Regions from separate parts of the Homo sapiens genome. Here regions 1 and 2 are each linked to region 3. The links come from fine-mapping of genetic effects on gene expression. A gene starts in region 3. Each other region holds a variant in brackets. All regions are shown on one strand. Distances are from middle to middle.

Region 1 (2,758 bases), 65 kb after region 3:
CTTTGTTGAATTTCCCTCTTGATGACCTGTCTAGTGCTGTCAGTGGAATATTGAAGTCTCCCACTATTATTGTGTTGCTGTCTATCTCATTTCTTGGGTCTATTAGTAATTGTTTTATAAGTTTGGGAGCTCCAGTGTTAGGTGCATGTATGTTTAAGACTATGATATTTTTCTGTCGGACAAAGCCTTTTACCATTATATACTGTCCCTCTTTGTCTCTTTTAACCACTGTTGCTTTAAAGTTTGTTTTGTCTGATATAAGAAGAGCTACCCCTGCTCGCTTTTGGTGTCCATTTGCATTAAATGCCTTTTTCCACTGCTTTAAGTTTATGTGAGTCCTTATGTGTTAGGTGAGTCTCCCAAAGGCAGCAGATGGTTGGTGAGTTCTTATCCATTCTGCGGTTCTGTACCTTTTAAGTGGAGCATTTAGGTCATTTACATTCAATGTTAGTATTGAAATGTGAGGTACCGTTACTTTACTTTCGTAGTGCTCTTTCTTGCCTATGTACTTTGGTTTTGTTTTGTGTTTTTGCTTTTTAACTTGTATTTTTGCATTATGGGTACTGTGTGATTTATGCTTTAAAGAGGTTCTGTTTTGATGTGTTTCCAGGATTTCTTTCAAGATTTACAGCTCCTTTTAGAAGTTCTTGTAGTGGTGATTTGGTAATGGCGAATTATCTCAGCATTTCTTTGTCTGAAAACGGCTTATCTTTCGTTCACATACGATGCTTAGTTTCACTGGATACGAAATTCTTGGCTGATAATTGTTTTGTTTGAGGAGGCTGAAGATAGGTCCCCAATTCCTTCTAGCTTATAGGGTTTCTGCTGAGAAGTCTGCTGTTAATATGGTAGGTTTTCCTTTATAAGTTACCCTGTGCTTCTGTCTCATGGCTCTTGATTCTTTCCTTCATCTTGAGTTTGGATAACCTGATGACAACGTGCCTAGGGAAAGATCTTTTTGTGATGAATTTCACAGGTGTTCTTTGTGCTTCCTGTATTTGGATGTTTAGGTCTCTCACAAGGCTGGGGATATTTTCCTTGATTACTCTCCC[GAGTA/A]TGTTTTCCAGGCTTTTAGAATTCTCTTCTTCCTCGGATATACCGATTATTCTCAGGTTTGGTTGTTTAACATAATCCCAGACTTTTTGGAGGCTTGTTCATATTTTCTTATTCTTTTTTCTTTGTCTTTGTTGGATTGGGTTAATTCAAAGACCTTGTCTTTGAGCTCTGAATTTCTTTCTTCTACTTGTTCATATCTATTACTGAGACTTTCTAGAGCATTTTGCATTTCTAAAAGTGTGTCCAAAGTTTCCTGAATTTTTGTTTTTTCATTAAGCTATCTATTTTCTTGAGTGTTTCTCCCTTCACTTCTTGTATCATTTTTGGATTTCCTTGCCTTGGGCTTTGCCTTTCTCTGGTCCCTCCCTGATTAGCTTAATAACTAACCTCCTGAATTCTTTTTCAGGTAAATCAGGGAATCTTCTTGGTTTGGATCCATTGCTGGTGAATTAGTATGATTTTTTGGGGGTGTTGAAGAGCCTTGTTTTATCATGTTACCAGGGTTGGTTTTCTGGTTCCTTCTCATTGGGGTAGGCTCTGTCAGAGGGAAGGTCTAGGGATGAAGGCTATCGTTCAGATTCTTTTGTTCCACGAAGTGTTCCCTTGATGTAGTATTCTCTCTCTTTTCCTATGGATGTGGCTTCCTGTGAACCAAATTGCAGTGATTGCTGTCTCTCTTCTGGGTCTAGCCACCCAGCAAGTCTACTCAGCTCTGGGCTGGTAGTAGGGGATGTCTGCACAGAGTCCTGTGATGTGAACCATCTATGGGTCTCTCAGCTGTGGATACCAGCACCTGTTCTGGTGGAGGGTGCAATGGACTCCGTGAGGATCCTTAGTTTTGGTGGTTTAATACCCTATTTTTGTGTTGGTTGGCCTCCTGCCAGGAGGTGGTGCTTTCCAGAAAACATCAGCTGTAGTAGTGTGGAGAGAGACTGGTGGTAGGTGGGGTCCTAGAACTCCCAAGATTATATGCCCTTTGTCTTCCACTACCAGGGTGGACAGGGAAGGACCATCAGGTGGGGGCAGGATTAGGCATGTCTGAGCTCAGACTCTCCTTGGGCGGGTCTTGTTGCGACTGCTGTTGGGGATGGGGGAAGAGATTCCTAGGTCACTTGAGTTGTGTACCTAGGAAGATTATGACTGCCTCTGCTGAGTCATGCAGGTTGTCAGTAAAGTGGGGGAAAGCCGGCAGTCACAGGCCTCACTCAGCTCCCACACAAACTGAAGGGCTGGTCTCACTCCCATGGTCTCACTCCCACCGTGCCCCTCTCACAACTCTGAGTCTGTTTCCAGGCCACAGGCGGGCAGCAGGCTTGCCCCAGGCTATCCGCCTCCCAGCTGCAAGAGAAAAGGGCTTTAGTTTTCCCCCTGCCGGTGAAGTCTGCATGCAGGATTTGCACCCTACCTTGAGTTCTGGTCAGGAGGCTTCTCACCCTGTTCAAATTGTTACAAAGTTCAGCTAGAGAATTCCTTCTCCCTGGGGAGTTTTATCCCCTGCTCCTCTGGCCACCCTCCCAATGGATCCCTGTGGTGCCAGGCAGGAATGGCCTGCTTGGGGACCCAGCAAACTCCCAGGGCCTTTCTGCTGCTTCCTCTACCCCTGTTATTTCGCTTGCCTCTCTAACTTGACTCAGCTCCAGGTAAAGTTGGAAACTTCTCCTGCAAACAGACCTTCAGCTTCTCCAGTGGGGGTGTGTGTTTG
Region 2 (2,736 bases), 27 kb after region 3:
TTTGTTCTGAGGAAATTATATTTTAGTGAAATAAGGCAAAAGGTTAATAATTTCAGATGGAGACAAATGCTATGAAGAAAATAAGGCAGTGCAATATGAAAAAGGGTGACTGGGGTGGGGCCTACCTTTCATACAGTAGTCAAAGAAGGTCTGTCTGAGGAAGTGACCTTTTGAACTGAGTCCTGAATGATGAGTTGGAACCAGCCATGTGAAGATCTGAGGAAGGGTGTGCTAGGCAGGAGAAACCTTGAGATAGGTAAGAGTTTGGCTGCTTTGAAGAACAAAGGAAGTTTTTTGGCTAGAGCATAGTGAATAAGGGTGTATGGCCTATTATGAGCTGAAACTGAATAGGTTGTGCAGCAAAGACTTCTTCCATGGCATAAAATGTCCCAATTTTTGGCTAGGGCACCTGGCTGCCCAGAATAAAGATGATATTTTCCAGCCTTCCTCGTAGGTAGGTATAGTCATATGAATATGTTCTGATTTGGGATACAAATTGAAGTGTCATATAGAGCTTCCAGAAATCTTACCTATAATAAAAAACAACTGGCATGTACCCCTTCCCCCTTTTCTTACTTTTCCCTTCTTCCAACTTTGCTGCCTGGAACATTGATATTATGACTAGTACTATAGCTATTCTCTTAGGTCTTGGGGTTGAGGAACAAGTCCTAGGGATGACAGAGCATGGCCTGGGAGGAGCTTGTGCCCTGAGGTTTTCTTGAAGGTGAACTCCAGTGCCAGCCTTGGGCAGTCTTCCTCTAGACTTACTTGTCAGAGAAGTAAACTTCTCTCTTGTTTTAGCTGTTGTCATTTTGGGTCTTTCTTGCTCATAGTCAAACTTAATCCTAACTTGATACAGAGGCAGGAGCTCTATCATCTAAGTTTTTATAGTGTGAAGAGATTGGATTTTATTCTAAATGCAATGGGAAGCCACTGAAAGATTTTAAGTAAGAGAGTAATATGATTCAATTAGTATTTTATAGGATTTTATAAGATATGAGGGAGAATGGGTGTAGGTAGACAAGAGTGGAAGAAGGGAAACAGTTAAAAGGTTATTGCAAATGATAAAACCCTAATGGAGAAGAAGTTAGCAATATTAAACAAAACTATGTGTGCAGTCACCCTTTGATTAGCAATTCCACTTCTAGGATTCTGTCCCAAAAATTCACTGGCAAAAAAATATGAAATGAAGCATGTACAAGGTTACTTATTACAATAGTATTTGTAATAGCAAGACTAAAAACAACTCAGATGCTCATCAGGCCTGGTATAGCTGCAAAATGAATTACTACTATGCAGCTATAAAAAGGATTGGGGAAGATATCTCTTTACTCCCATGGAGTGATCTCCAAGATGTACTGTTATGTGAAAGAGCAATGTATGTGGACAGAATGTAGAGTATTGTACTTTTTATGTAAGGAATGAGGGAGATATGAGTGTATTTCCTTATGCTTTCAAAAAACAATGAAAGGATAAACCACAAACTTATAACTGTATTTACTTATAGGGAGAAGGAAGGAACAGAGTAGAGGGGACAGGAATGAAAGTTAAG[A/C]TTTACCTGAATGTTCCTTTTTAATAGTTTAGAACCATGTAAGTGTTTTGTATAATTATGAAAGAAAATTAGAACAAAAGGAAAAAACAAAGCAATCCTTAGCAATTAAAAAAAAATGAGCCTAACTGTATTAAGTTCATGGCATAATCACACAAGTTTTTTTATTCTTTTTTGAGACACGGTCTTGCTCTGTTGTCCAGGCTAGAGTGCAGTGGCACAATCACAGTTCACTGCAGCCTTGACCTCCCTGGCCCAAACAATCCTCCAAACTCAGCCTTCCAAGTAGCTGAGACCACAGGCATATTGCCACCAAGCCTGGCTAATTTTTTAATTTTTGTAGAGATGAGGTCTCCCTATGTTGTTCAAGCTGTTCTCCTGGGCTCAAGCGATCCTCCTGCATTGGCCTCCCAAAGTGCTGGTATTACAGGCATGAGCCACTGTTCCCAGCCCACACAAATTTTTTTCAGTATCTATTTTAATTTAATTTACTTTTATTTTATTTTGAGACAGGGTCTGGCTCTGTTGCCCAGGCTGGAGTGCAGTGGCATGATCTCAGCTCACTGTAGCCTCTGCCTCCTGGGCTCAAACCATCCTCCCTCCTCAGCCTCCCAAGTAGCTCGGACTACAGGTGCATGCAATAATGCCCAGCTAATTTTTTGTATTTTTGGTAGAGATGGGGTTTCAGTATATTGCCCAGGCTGGTCTTTAACCCTTCCCACCTGAGCCGAGGCTCAAACAATCCTCCTGCCTTGGCCTCCCCAAATGCTAGGATTATGGACGTGAGCCACCACACTTGGCCTTTATATTTTTATTTTAGAGATGGGATCTTGCTGTGTTGCTTAGGCTGGGCTCAAACTCTTGGGCTAAAGTGGTCTTCTTGCCCCAGCTTCCTGAGTAGCTGGACTACAGGTGTGTAACACCATGTCTGGCCTTTTTTCTTTTTTTTGATAATTTTTTTTTTTTTAGAGTTGGGGTCTTGCTGTGTTGCCCAGGCTAGTCTTGAACTCCTGGGCTCAAGTGATCCTCCCCTCTTGGCCTCCCAAAGTGCTGGGATTGCAGGCAGGAGCCACTGCACCCAGCCTGGAGTATCATTAAATTTGTGTATCTTTAAATTTTTAGTATCTTTAAATTTGTGGTATTTTGGTTGTATATTCTAGCAGGCTCCATCCTAGAAAAAGAAGAGC
Region 3 (2,756 bases):
GAGTGCAGTGGCGCGATCTCGGCTCACTGCAAGCTCCGCCTCCGAGGTTCACGCCATTCTCCTGCCTCGGCCTCCCCAGCAGCGGGGACTACAGGCGCCCGCCACCACGCCCGGCTAATTTTTTTTTTATTTTTAGTAGAGACGGGGTTTCACCGTGTTAGCCAGGATGGTCTCGATCTCCTGACCTCGTGATCCGCCCTCCTCGACCTCCCAAAGTGCTGGGATTAACGACGTGAGCCACCGCGCCCGGCCGAAGAAGGATTTTTTTAAGGCATCAACCAAAAGCAGAGTATTCTATATATTACGTGGTTACCTTTTTGTGGTCTTTCTAAAAACTCAGGGAAAAAAAACTGCCGTATAATGAATATAATGAGAGTGAATTTCGCTTCTACACATAAGGCTATCCAGTTAAGAACAGGGGAAAAGCCGGGCGCGGTGGCTCACGCCTGTAATCCCAGCACTATGGGAGGCGGAGGCGGGTGGATCACGAGGTCAGGAGATCGAGACCATCCTGGCTAACACAGTGAAACCCCGGCTCTACCAAAAATACAGAAAAATTAGCCGGGCGTGGTCGCGGGCGCCTGTAGTCCCAGCTACTCGGGAGGCTGAGGCAGGAGAATGGCGTGAACCCGGGAGGCGGAGCTTGCAGTGAGCGGAGATCGCGCCACTTCACTCTAGCCTGGGCAGCAGAGCGAGACTCCGTCTCAAATAATAATAATAATAATAATAATAATAATAATAATGGGGGAAAAAATGAAAAATGGAATAAAAGCTCTCCGGCCGTAGATAACAGGCTGAAGTACTGTTCATAGGATAGATCTCTTCGCTATTTTCACCTGGAATTCTCCTCTGTGAACTCTGCAACAGACTTCTGTAGAGAGAACCCCAGATCGGTTGGGTGGTCCTTCTGATGGGTCTGGATAAACCCCTGTACAGCTGACTTAACCAAGAAGGGAAGTACATGTTGGAGCCACACGATGGCGAAAAACAATCACGAAATCCCACGCTGCCGGTAGTTAAAAGTCAGTTTTGGAAATACACAGAAATCCCTTAAAATTCCAGGAGTTCCCACTCTCTTCTCGAATATTTAAGGCCTCCTCCGCACAACATTGGAGTACACGTGTCTAGAAACAAGACAAATCTCCAAGGTCTCTGGGGTGCTTGCTGGGGTGGAGATAAGGGAAAGACCTCTCCCTGAGTCTTAAAGCATCAGTCTGCACTTCTACTCAACAAGTCGGCAGCCAAAAGTGACGACGAGAGAGCGACTCCACGTAGCGGCGCCAGGCGCGAGCCCAAGACAACCAGAGGCGGTCACAAGGTATACGCCCTTCTCCTCTTTCCACGCTTCTCGAGAGGCTCCCGCGGCCAGAACCGGAAAACAAGGAGTAACAGTCGCGTTTCAAATCTCGCAGACCTGCTGGCCGATTTCGAGTCTTCTGAAAGAGGAAGGCGAGCAAAGCCAAAATTCTCCCAGAGCGCGAACCCAAACACAGATCGCCGCTGGGGTCCAAGCGCCCTTCAACTCCGCCCGCTAGTGCCCAAGATTACCGGGAAGGAATTCAACGAATCAGTGGTGAGGTGCCGCCGCCATGCCTACTACGGGCGGAAATTTGAGAGAAAGCTTCGCACCGGTAGGAAAACTGAGGAGCAACCGAGCACGATTGGAAAGGTTGACGATAGTGGTTAAGTGGCTCGGCCTTGCCCTCAGTTAAAATGGCAATTTTAGTTGCTTCACTGATACGGAATCGGCGAGGCGCCAAGGAGGCTTCCTGCGTGGGGCCGCAGAGCGAGTCGGGAAACGATTTTAAACTGAAGAGGCGGCGGAGGGCCGAATTCCCTTTTCTCAACGGCTTGATTTCAGAGCTGGGCTGGTCTCTGACAGGCTCAGCTGGAGAGGGACGGGTTGGGACGCACTGTCCTTTTGCCCTTCCCCCTCCGCGAGCAGAAGCTGACTCCGCAGGAGCGAGGGTCGCAGAGCTGGGTGAGCGGAAATGTCCCTCCCAGAGTGAAGTCGCAGGGCCCGCCCCGCGTCTGAGGGAGCGGAGGTCTTCCTGGGTGCGTTTGTGTCTCTTGTGAACCCACTTGTGGAGCGAGAGGGAATTTGGGAGGGCCAGGGGTTAGTCTGGCCTCTGTCTTAGCTGTCATTTTGGCGGTTTTTTTTTTTTTTCTTCAGGGGATTTCAGTCTCCACATAGTTTTGGAGCCGGACTTTTGAAGAATGATTCGTGAATCCGGAATGGGTGACAGCGTCATCACGGCATTTTATTGGTAAAGATGCTTTGTATTGGTCCCGGACCTGCTTTAACTTTGTATTTGCCCTGTTGTGTGGTCATTATCTTACAATACTTGCGTGTTGAGGTGTGTTTAAACACTACGTGCTTAACACTGGCTAAGTATTGGCATTGGGGCGGTTGGATTTAGGTATTGGTGGCAATGTAGAAAAGTGATCAAGTCAGAGCCCCTTCACGGACTAATCACAAGAGAAACAACAAAGCTTTACTTGTGTGCTGTGAACCACAACTGCAAGTGGAATTGTCAAGAGAACTAGCCCTGCCAAGCTCAGGAAAACTTCTGAGGAGATGGCACATGGAAAATGGATAAGATTTACTGAGACAAACGGGAGTAGAGAAGTGTTTTTAATTGGCGATAAGGTGAATAAAAAGGCAGGGAGAACAGTAGAGTGATCATCTGTCTAGAGTAGGGGGTGCATGTTTGGGTATAGGGCTGTCATTTAACCTCTTAAAGAATTGTCTACTG

Which allele goes with the higher level. Alleles are on the strand shown, and positions count from the first base shown. SD is a standard deviation of normalised expression in the study named. Not every link is listed here.
With allele A in place of GAGTA in region 1, the expression in subcutaneous fat of the gene that starts at base 1,520 in region 3 is lower (small effect, 0.20 SD a copy in GTEx).

Evidence for each region. PIP is the estimated chance that this variant, and not a neighbour inherited with it, causes the effect.
Region 1: its variant is the best candidate, but not a certain one, in a credible set for the expression of DARS2 in subcutaneous fat (GTEx, PIP 0.84).
Region 2: its variant is the best candidate, but not a certain one, in a credible set for the expression of DARS2 in whole blood (INTERVAL, PIP 0.87).

What each region holds. Positions count from the first base shown.
Region 1 is chr1:173,758,591-173,761,348 of GRCh38, reverse strand. The region is part of intron 7 of KLHL20 (kelch like family member 20); the gene reads right to left. Among named protein-coding and RNA genes, the nearest start is that of KLHL20, 45 kb to the right of the region's middle. RefSeq lists an enhancer at 1,915-2,415. The variant GAGTA/A (reference allele first, on the strand shown) is at 1,053.
Region 2 is chr1:173,796,218-173,798,953 of GRCh38, reverse strand. No RefSeq gene overlaps it. Among named protein-coding and RNA genes, the nearest start is that of DARS2, 27 kb to the left of the region's middle. RefSeq lists a silencer at 197-397. The variant A/C (reference allele first, on the strand shown) is at 1,553.
Region 3 is chr1:173,823,437-173,826,192 of GRCh38, reverse strand. DARS2 (aspartyl-tRNA synthetase 2, mitochondrial) reads right to left here and starts at 1,520. Exons shown (of 17, transcript NM_018122.5): 1 at 837-1,520. The coding sequence starts at 963. CENPL (centromere protein L) reads left to right here and starts at 1,310. Exons shown (of 6, transcript NM_001387287.1): 1 at 1,310-1,981; 2 at 2,174-2,267. RefSeq lists enhancers at 1-138, 780-1,297, 1,004-1,563, 1,298-1,816, 1,794-2,033.